Regions from separate parts of the Homo sapiens genome. Here region 1 is linked to region 2. Evidence: fine-mapped expression QTL. A gene starts in region 2. The other region holds a variant in brackets. All regions are shown on one strand. Distances are between the middles of the regions. Region 1 overlaps KIF3A (kinesin family member 3A). Region 2 holds the start of IL4 (interleukin 4).

The links. PIP is the estimated chance that this variant, and not a neighbour inherited with it, causes the effect.
Region 1: its variant is the best candidate, but not a certain one, in a credible set for the expression of IL4 in coronary artery (GTEx, PIP 0.58).

Annotation. Positions count from the first base shown.
Region 1 is chr5:132,710,472-132,715,860 of GRCh38, forward strand. It overlaps KIF3A (kinesin family member 3A), which reads right to left. Exons shown (of 19, transcript NM_001300791.2): 8 at 5,286-5,389; 9 at 488-586. Among named protein-coding and RNA genes, the nearest start is that of KIF3A, 24 kb to the right of the region's middle. The variant A/G (reference allele first, on the strand shown) is at 2,899.
Region 2 is chr5:132,670,623-132,676,004 of GRCh38, forward strand. IL4 (interleukin 4) reads left to right here and starts at 3,367. Exons shown (of 4, transcript NM_000589.4): 1 at 3,367-3,563; 2 at 3,837-3,884. The coding sequence starts at 3,429.

The DNA.
Region 1 (5,389 bases), 40 kb after region 2:
CGGGCGAGGTGGCATTTGCCTATAGTCCCAGCTACTCGGGAGGCTGAGGCAGGAGAATCGCTTCAACCTGGGAGGTGGAGGTTGCAGTGAGCCGAGATCGCGCCACTGCACTCCAGCCTGGGCGACAGAATGAGACTCCGTCTCAAAACAAACAAACAAACAAACAAACAAAAAAACTTAGGTTCCTAACACAGATGTAAGTCCCTACATAAAATTAAAACACACAGGAAATTTTAAAATGGCATACCCAGTATTATAGAGTCTTACAATTCTAAATTCTAAAAAAACAGAACATATATTCAAAGTCAGCTATAAACGGATCAATACAGGAGAAAAAATGCAAAGTTAACCAGGTAAATGGCATACATCTTCTGTTCTAATTGTTATCTAATATATTAAACAGATAACGGCAAAATAAAAGTCATGCACTCTACCACCTTGTGAAACCACCTAATTTCTACAAATCAGATTACTAAACAGAACTTACCCCTTCTTTTTTTCCTTTTCTCTCCATCTTCTCCAACCTCACCCTCTTCATCATCATCTTCCTCTGACCCACTGATATCAGAGCCTGATATTTCTTCTCCTTGGACAGAAATTTAATACAATGTTTTTTATCCTGTACGAAGTCATTAGCTATTTAGGAAATACCTATATCAGCTTTCTTCCTCAGATTTTTGTTACTGCAAACAACAAATTTAAATACTATTTAAATGCTCCTAGAAAGTATAACAGATATGCCAATCTCAGACACAGATGAGATATCCAAAAAGACTTTATTTTTAAAGTCTCTAAAGAGAAGTTAAATTCTGACCCACTTAAAATTTCAAACCATTCTGGCTAGGCAAGGTGGCGCACGCCTGTAATCCCAGCACTTTAAGAGGCTGAGGCAGGCAGATCACTTGAGGCCAAGAGTTTGAGACCAGCCTGGCCAACATGGCAAAACCCCATCTCTACTAAAAATACAAAAATTAGCTGGGCTTGGTGGCATGCACCTGTAATCCCAGCTACTTGGGAGGCTGAGGCAGGAGAATCACTTGAACCCAGGAGGCAGAGGTTGCAGTGAGCCGAGATGGCACCACTGTACTCCAGCCTCAACAACAGAGTGACTCTGTCTCAAAAAAAAAAATAAAAATATTCAAATCATTTCTTTATGTATAATTTTAAATATATATATAAATTATGTGGTAGAGTTACTAATTCAGTCTTTTAAAAATGTGATCACTTTTGAGGAACAATTTCTTCTAAAACAGCTTCCTGTTTAAGATTTCAAATAATTCATTCAATCTGTATTTTTAAGAGACACAGAACTGTCATGTAACAATGATCCCACTTTTAGGACTGTATCACAAGATATTTTCAAAAAAAGAAGTGCTTATTTGTACAAAGACAGTGTTAACTACACATTAACTTAAAGATAAAAAACAAAAAAGGAATGATGAAGCCAATAAAACAGATCAGCACTATATCATCTTCAAATTAGCTATTTTTAAATGCCACTGTTTACATATGAAATGTCTAACAAAATAAAATAGAGGAGAAAAAAGTAAAATATACTCTAATCACAACCAGGTAATAATTGTACCTGTAAGTACAAGATGGAAAGGAACACAGAGTCTTGGGAGAAGAAATTTCTGAAAAATATTTTTTTCTTCGGGCTTAGAAACAATGACATCTTGGTAGTAATGAGCACAGCTAGTGCCCAAAACTGGGTTTCTAAATACCATTCTCCTACAGAAGGGACCAGAGAGAAGTGAATGATTCTAAGATTGGGCAAGGAAGACACAAGATAAACCTAAAACCTTTTGTAGTGCCAAAAAGTAATCAAATGCTCAAAAAAACTGATGAGCACATGCTGAAAGAATACAGGAACTACTCTGAAGGATCTCATAATAGCCAAAGCTGGAACAATTCAATGAACAAAATAAATAATGATAACACTGGATTATAATCCATGATCTAAATAAGATAAATACTTGAATAAATAAACAAATGGGAATGAAGGGGCTGTTCTTCCATACAATAGAATCCTAAACACTAAACAAGGAAGAAATGATGAGAATAGAAAATAACATTGAGCAAATGCCACAGGATTATTGTTGCAGACAAGAACTATTGATGAATACTAAAAATAGTAGAAGAAAGTATGACAAGAAACAGGACCTTTGCAGTCTCAAAGTATCCCCCACAAGATACATGTTAATTACGAATGGAAACATAAAACAATAGATTTGCAGTGGAGAAACTTTGCAGGGTCATTATAAAAGAAAAGTAGACAAACCCAAATTAATGAACATTCAACAAATATATGACCAGTACTCTTCAAAAATGTCAAGATCAAGAAAGACTGGGGAATTAGACTGAAGAACAAGTGTGCTAGACATCGTCATTAAAAAGGCATGACATGGCCGGGCATGGTGGCTCACGCCTGTAGTCCCAGCACTTTGAGATGCCGAGGCAGGCAGATCACGAGGTCAGAGGATAAAGACCATCCTGGCAAACATGGTGAAACCCTGTCTCTACTAAAAATACGAAAATTAGCTGGGCGAGGTGGCATGTGCCTGTAGTCCCAGCTACTCAGGAGGTTGAGGCAGGAGAATCGCTTGAACAGGGAGGCAGAGGTTGCAGTAAGCTGAGACTGTGCCACTGAATTCCAGCCTGGCAACAGAGCGAGACTCTGTCTCAAAACAAAAAACAAACAACAACAACAACAACAACAACAAAACAAAGAAAGCATGACAAATAAATGCAGTGTGTGATCCTGGATTGTATCCTGGACCAGGAAAAAGAGGCACTGGAAGGAAAACTGGCCAAATTTGAATAAAGTCCACAGATTAGTTAATAAGACTATATCAATGTAAATCTCCTGGTTTCAATAACTGTTGTATGCTTATAAAA[A/G]ATGTTAACATGAGGTGAAGCTGGGTGAAGGGTAGATAGGAACTCTCCATATCATGTTTGCAAGTTGCATATAGCCTACAATAATTTTTAAGTTTAAAAATTATTATTTTAATGCTATTGCCTACTTTTTTATTGTTGATATGATCAACTCCATTAACTAGATTATAAAAAGAAATGTCATAAGAGCAAAAATGAACTGAAATGTATTAACAACAGTATTATCATAGAATCCAGCAATTCCATTGCTGGGTACATACCCCAAAAATGGTAAAACAAGAATTCAAACAGGTATTAGTATACCCACGTTCATAGCAGCATTATTCACAATAGCCAAAAGGTGGAAAGAACCAACTGTCCATTGGTGGATGAATGGATAACAAAATGTAGTATATACACAATGGAATGTTATTCAGAATTAAAAAGAAGTCCTGATACATTCTACAACACGGATGACCCTTGAAGGCATTATACTAAATGAAATAAGCCAGTCACAAAAAGACAAATGCTGTATTTCACTTTCTTTTTTTTTTTTTTTTTTTTTTTTGAGATGGGAGTCTCACTCTGCCACCCAGGCTGGAGTGCAGTGGCATAATCTCGGCTCATTGCCACCTCCACCTTCCAGGTTCAAGTGATCCTCCTGCCTCAGCCTCCCAAGTAGCTGGGATTACAGGCGAGAGCCACCATGCCCAGCTAATTTTTGTATTTTCAGTAAAGATGGGGTTTCACCGTGTTGGCCAGGCTGGTCTCGAACTCCTGACCTCAACTGATCCACCCGCCTCGGCCTCACAAAGTGCTGGGATTACAAGCGTGAGCCACTGCGCCCCACCAATTCCGCTTTCGTAAGATACCCAGAGCAGTCAAATTCATAGACAAAGCAGAATGGTTGTTGGCCAGGAACTAGGGGAAGGGAGGAATGGGTACATACTGTTTTTAATGAGTACAAAGTTTCAATTTTGCAAGAAGAAAACTGAAGACGGATAACTGCAGAACAATGTGAATGTAATGCCACAGAAATGTAGACTTAAATGTGATTAAAATGGTAAACTTTATGTTATGCAAGTTTAACCACAATTTTTTAAAAAGGAATAAAATTCAGGCACTTGCTACAATATGGATGAACCTTCAACGTTCTGTTAAGTGAAATAAGCCAGTCACAAGTAGATACTCCATGATTTTACTTATATGAGGTACCTAGAATAGTCAAATTCATAGAGACCGAAAGTAGAATAGTGGTTACCAGAGACTGGGGGAGAAAAGAATAGGAAGTTACTACTTAAATGGGCACAGCATTTCTGTTTGGGATGATGAAAAATTTCTAGAAATGAATAGTGGTGACAGTTGCACAACAATGCGAATATACTTGATGCCACTAACTGTACACTTAACTAACAATGGTTACAATGATAAATTTTATGTCATGTATATTTTACCACAACAAAAAAATGTAAAACATAAAGTCAGCAAAATAAAAGTATGCACTCACCGTTAACATCGCTAAGAAATTAAAAATCTTTAAAACATACTGGCTATAAATACCACCTAGTGGTCACATTTAAAACACCAAATTTCATTATCTAACAGTTCTCTTACTGCTTTTCCTCAATAACTACTTGTTTACTAAATAAGTACCCTCTCTAAACATTTGTGATGCTGGCGTCTCTGAATTTCACCTCTGATCTAGTCAGTCTTCTCACAGACTACAAAGGTGCTTTGAAACCAAAGCCCTGTTTACGTGGTTCGCGAAGGAGCTCTGTACCAATCAGAAAGGATCTGTTTCTCGCATTAAGGTGCAAGGACTCACTCAGCACTTAATGACTGGGAAGCGTCTCACTCTCATAAATAAGATCTTCAAATTTTCCAACTTTCTAGCATGATATTGTTAGAAAAGAATTTCCAAAATACAATCTCATGTTCAAATTTAGGTATGAAAGGATATTTTAAAGGTCATGCAATGCATTTTTCCTTATAGCAAACTTGGTTTACTCATGACTGTCTAATATCTTGCTTTACTTCAAACAATAGTTAGTTGATATTGATTGCAATGCCAGAATTCTGGTCATTTTCACCTAAATACATACATTGCAGAATTTGCTCTTATACAGAGACAAATAAACATTCATTCCTTAAAAAGTGGTCATATGAAATCTACAAAACATCATGCAAATGTTTTTAAAAAACCACATACACAAATATTATGTAATTTTACTTAAGCTTAATATGAAAATGCGAAAGTATGTAAGTACCAAGTCACTTTCTAGAAATATTCATTTAACTACCAATGTTAGAGGCTCAAAAAAGGTTTAATAGAGGGCTTTTGTTAGAACAGTTAGTGGTTCAACAATGTATTTTTAGCCAACATAAAGATTAATATTTTGAGGAAAAGCTACCTTCTTCAAGCTTCTTTTTCAGTTCTTCTATTTCTTTCTGGAACTGACGCAGCAAAGCATCCTTTGGATCTTCATTAATTCTAGCTTTATTTTTAATATTCTTA
Region 2 (5,382 bases):
AATAGTCAGCATTTTGTCACACGTCAAAGTGCTGAGAAGGTGATGCCTCTGACGCCACACGGGGAAGACAATGAGAGCTTTGTGTTTGGGCCCCTCCTCCATCTCGCCCCTGTGTCTCCTCTTTTGGCTGGTTCTGATTTGAATGCTTTTGTTATGATAAAACTGTGGCCTTACGTATAGCACTCTCCTGAGTTCTGTCAGTCATCCTAGTGCATTCTGGAACCTGAGGGGTAGTGGAAACTCCCAGATTTGCAGCCAGTCAGCAGTGAGGGTGGGCTGGGAACCCCTGAATGTGCAGCTGGCGTCTGAAGCAAGGGCAGTGTTGTGGGGGACCATACCCCTCACCTGTGAGGTGTGGCTCATCTCAGGTGGTTTGGCATCTGAAGCCACTGCATTTAGTTTGGTAACCTTGCTGCCCAGTCCCAATGGAAGGATCCTAAATATGGTCTAAGGACCTCCTGATACAATTATCCAGATTCTCTCCTTCACAGAACTTGAGGCACTGCGATAAGATCCAAAACTATATATAGACAGTGGAATACTATACAGCCTTAAAAAAGAAGGAAACGCTGTCATTCACCACAACATGGATGAACCTGGAGGACATTATGCTAAGTGAAAAAATCCAGGCACAGACAGACAAATACCACATGATCTCACGCATATGTGAAATATAAAAAAGCCAAACTCAGGGAGGCAGAGAGTAGGATGATGGTCACCAGGGGCTGGGAGGGTGGTGATCAGGAAGATGTTGGTCAAAGGATATAAAATTTCAACTGGGAGGAGTTAAGTTAAAGAGAGCCATTGTACGACATGGTGACAACAGTTGATATCAATGTCTTGTATACTTAAAAATCATGAAGACAGGCCAGGCGCAGTGGCTCACACCTGTAATCCCAGCACTTTGCAGGGGCTGAGGTGGGTAGATCACCTGAGGTCAGGAGTTCGAGACCAGCCTGGCCAACATGGTAAAACCCTGTCTCTATTAAAAATACAAAAATTAGCTGGGCGTGGTGGCAGGCACCTGTAATCCCAGCTACTCGGGAGGCTGAGGCAGGAGAATTGCTTGAGCTCAGGAGGCAGAGGTTGCAGTGAGCTGAGACTGCGCCATTGCACTCCAGTCTGGGCAACAGAGCAAGACTCTATCTCAAAATAAATAAATAAATCACAGAGTAGATTTTAAATGTTCTTACCAAAAATAAATATGTGAAGTATTGTATAAGTAGCTTGATGTAGCAATTCCATAACATGCACATTTCAAAACATTATATCATACAGCACAAATATGTGCAATACTTATTTGTCAATTTAATAATAATAATAATAAGGGAAGAAAAGATCCAAAACAGAGGCAAAACCTTGGCCGGGCATGGTGGTTCACGCCTATAATCCCAGCACTTTGGGAGGCTGAGGTGGGTGGATCATTTTGAGGCCAGGAGTTCGACACCAGCCTAGCCAACATGGTGAAACCCCATCTCTACTAAAAAAAAAAAAAAAATACAGAAATTAGCCAGGCGTGGTGGCATGTGCCTGTAATCCCAGCTACTCGGGAAGCTGAGGCTGGAGAATGCCTTGAGCCCAGGAGATCAAGGCTACAGTAAGCTATGATCACCACTGCACTCCAGCCTGGGTGACAGAGTATGGGGGCAGGGGGTGGTGAGGGGGGGGCGGGGAAGTGGAACAGAGGCAAAACCTTAGCAACACACATTTTTAGATGATCTTCCAGAATAAATTCATAGGGAGGCCCAGGCACAGTGGCTCACGCCTGTAATCCCAGCACTTTGGGAGGCCGAGGCAGGCGGATCACGAGGTCAGGAGATGGAGACCATCCTGGCTAACACGGTGAAACCCCGTCTCTACTAAAAATACAAAAAATTAGCCGGGCGTGGTGGCAGGTGCCTGTAGTCCCAGCTACTCGGGGAGGCTGAGGCAGGAGAACGGCATGAACCCAGGAGGCGGAGCTTGCAGTGAACTAAGATCACGCCACTGCACTCCAGCCTGGGTGACAGAGCAAGATTCCATCTCAAAAAAAAAAAAAAAAAAAAGAAATTCATAGGGAAAAGAAGGTCAGAGACCAAGGGAAGGGAAGGTTCTGGGAGAAAAGCAGGGGGCAGGCAGGGCCCAAGAATCCTGCTGCCCATGAGCCCTTACTGGGAGGTGGGGTGGCCTTGCACAGGGCCCAGGCACCTGAGTGAGTGGTGGGGTCCTTACGTTCACTGCTGGGGTGAGGCAATGAGCACCTTATTGTGTCCACATGAATTCAATAAAAAACAAGCAGGGCGGGTGGTGGGGCACTGACTAGGAGGGCTGATTTGTAAGTTGGTAAGACTGTAGCTCTTTTTCCTAATTAGCTGAGGATGTGTTTAGGTTCCATTCAAAAAGTGGGCATTCCTGGCCAGGCATGGTGGCTCACACCTGTAATCTCAGAGCTTTGGGAGACTGAGGTAGGAGGATCACTTGAGCCCAGGAATTTGAGATGAGCCTAGGCAACATAGTGAGACTCTTATCTCTATCAAAAAATAAAAATAAAAATGAGCCAGGCATGGTGCGGTGGCACGCACCTACTGCTAGGGGGGCTGAGGTGGGAGGATCACTTGAGCCTGGGAGGTTGAGGCTGCAGTGATCCCTGATCACAACATTGCATTTCAGCCTGGGTGACAGAGTGAGACCCTGTCTCAGAAAAAAAAAAAAAAAAGTCATTCCTGAAACCTCAGAATAGACCTACCTTGCCAAGGGCTTCCTTATGGGTAAGGACCTTATGGACCTGCTGGGACCCAAACTAGGCCTCACCTGATACGACCTGTCCTTCTCAAAACACCTAAACTTGGGAGAACATTGTCCCCCAGTGCTGGGGTAGGAGAGTCTGCCTGTTATTCTGCCTCTATGCAGAGAAGGAGCCCCAGATCAGCTTTTCCATGACAGGACAGTTTCCAAGATGCCACCTGTACTTGGAAGAAGCCAGGTTAAAATACTTTTCAAGTAAAACTTTCTTGATATTACTCTATCTTTCCCCAGGAGGACTGCATTACAACAAATTCGGACACCTGTGGCCTCTCCCTTCTATGCAAAGCAAAAAGCCAGCAGCAGCCCCAAGCTGATAAGATTAATCTAAAGAGCAAATTATGGTGTAATTTCCTATGCTGAAACTTTGTAGTTAATTTTTTAAAAAGGTTTCATTTTCCTATTGGTCTGATTTCACAGGAACATTTTACCTGTTTGTGAGGCATTTTTTCTCCTGGAAGAGAGGTGCTGATTGGCCCCAAGTGACTGACAATCTGGTGTAACGAAAATTTCCAATGTAAACTCATTTTCCCTCGGTTTCAGCAATTTTAAATCTATATATAGAGATATCTTTGTCAGCATTGCATCGTTAGCTTCTCCTGATAAACTAATTGCCTCACATTGTCACTGCAAATCGACACCTATTAATGGGTCTCACCTCCCAACTGCTTCCCCCTCTGTTCTTCCTGCTAGCATGTGCCGGCAACTTTGTCCACGGACACAAGTGCGATATCACCTTACAGGAGATCATCAAAACTTTGAACAGCCTCACAGAGCAGAAGGTGAGTACCTATCTGGCACCATCTCTCCAGATGTTCTGGTGATGCTCTCAGTATTTCTAGGCATGAAAACGTTAACAGCTGCTAGAGAAGTTGGAACTGGTGGTTGGTGGCAGTCCAGGGCACACAGCGAGGCTTCTCCCCTGCCACTCTTTTTTCTGAGGGTTTGTAGGAAGTTTCCTCAGTTGGAGGGAGTGAGAGCTGCTCATCAAGGACTTCTCTGTCCGGTTGGAGGTTAACTCTGTCTCTTGCTCTCTCATTTCTGCCTGGACCAAGACTCTGTGCACCGAGTTGACCGTAACAGACATCTTTGCTGCCTCCAAGGTAAGAAGCCGTCCCACGGTCTGTTTTAGCAAATGGGGAGATCCATCCCCAAATGTCTGAACAAGAAACTTGTCTAATGGAAAACGAGCGGGCCCAAATTAACTCTAAGGTGTTAGATGTTTTCAAAGAACGAGAAGTCTGATCTTTACTCTTAAGCATGTTTTGGTCTTTCTGGTTTCACTTGATTTAGAAGACATGTAATAGAAAGCTTACATGCTGTAGTCCTGACTCAGATCCTGGTCAAAGAAAAGCCCTCTTGGGTTTTACTTAGCTTTGGCATAGTGCCTGGAACGTAGGAGGCACTCAATAAATGCCTGTTGAATGAGAGAATTTTTCTGGCCCATACATTTCTGAAAAACCAAATACTCTCACAGAAACAGATATTGAGATGACAGGTTGAGGGAGCTTTCATTTTGTCTAAGAGACTTCCTATGGCAACAGAAAAGGTATCGCCAGAGCCCCTCCTCTTCCACAGCCTGGCCACCTAACAGCCCTCTGGGTTCCGGGGCTGGCCGTCCAGAGCTCCTCAGCTTGCTCTGGCCGGCCGAACTCCCCTCCAGCTCGGTCTGGAACCATCCTGCTGGGCAGCGTCCAGCACATCCCTGCTTCGGGCTGCCTGGGCACCTCGCCTCTCTGCCTCCTGTGCTGCCTCACCCCCACCCCTCTATCTGTAGTGGGAGGAGATAGATTTGACAGCTGATAGTGCATTTTCTCTGACAAACACATGACTACAGCCGTATCAATAGTTTTGTGCATTTCAGTTCCTGTTTTCATGGAAACACACGGCTGAGAATGAAAGCCCCAAAGCCTCAATTTCACAGTGGTCTCCTAACTACCTGCTTTCCATGCAAACTAGGGAGATGATATGGCCAGGAGTGAAGCCCTGTGTGTTGGGCAGGGTCACACTCCAGCACCCAGACCATAGAACAGGGCCCATCCTGCTTCATGAGGGAAACTGCTCTTCGGGCCTTTAGCTGGACTATCTCATTTCATTAGTTATCCCGGGAGTCCGATACAGGATGAGATTCTGAAGGGCAAATACACACTTTTTTTTTTTTTTGAGATAGGGTCTTGTTCTGTCACCCAGGCTGGAGTGCAGTGGTGCGATTTCAGCTCATAGCAGCCTCCACCTCCCAGGCTCAAGCTATCTTCCTACCTCAGCCTCCCAAGTAGCCGGGACGACAGGTGTGCACCACCACGCCTGGCTAATTTTTGTATTTTTTTGTAGAGATGGAGTCTTGCCATTTTGCCCAGGCTTGTCTCGAACTTCTGGGCTCAAGCAATCCGTCCACCTCGGCCTCTCAAAGTGCTGGGATTAGCCACTGCACCTGGGCAACAGTTTATGTGTGTGTGTGTGTGTGTGTGTGTGTGTATATATGTGTGTGTGTATATATATGTGTGTATGTATATATGTGTATGTATATGTGTGTGTGTGTGTGTGTGTGTGTGTATAAAATCTCCAAGTCCATCCAACCGAGATGGCTCCTACTAGAAGCCA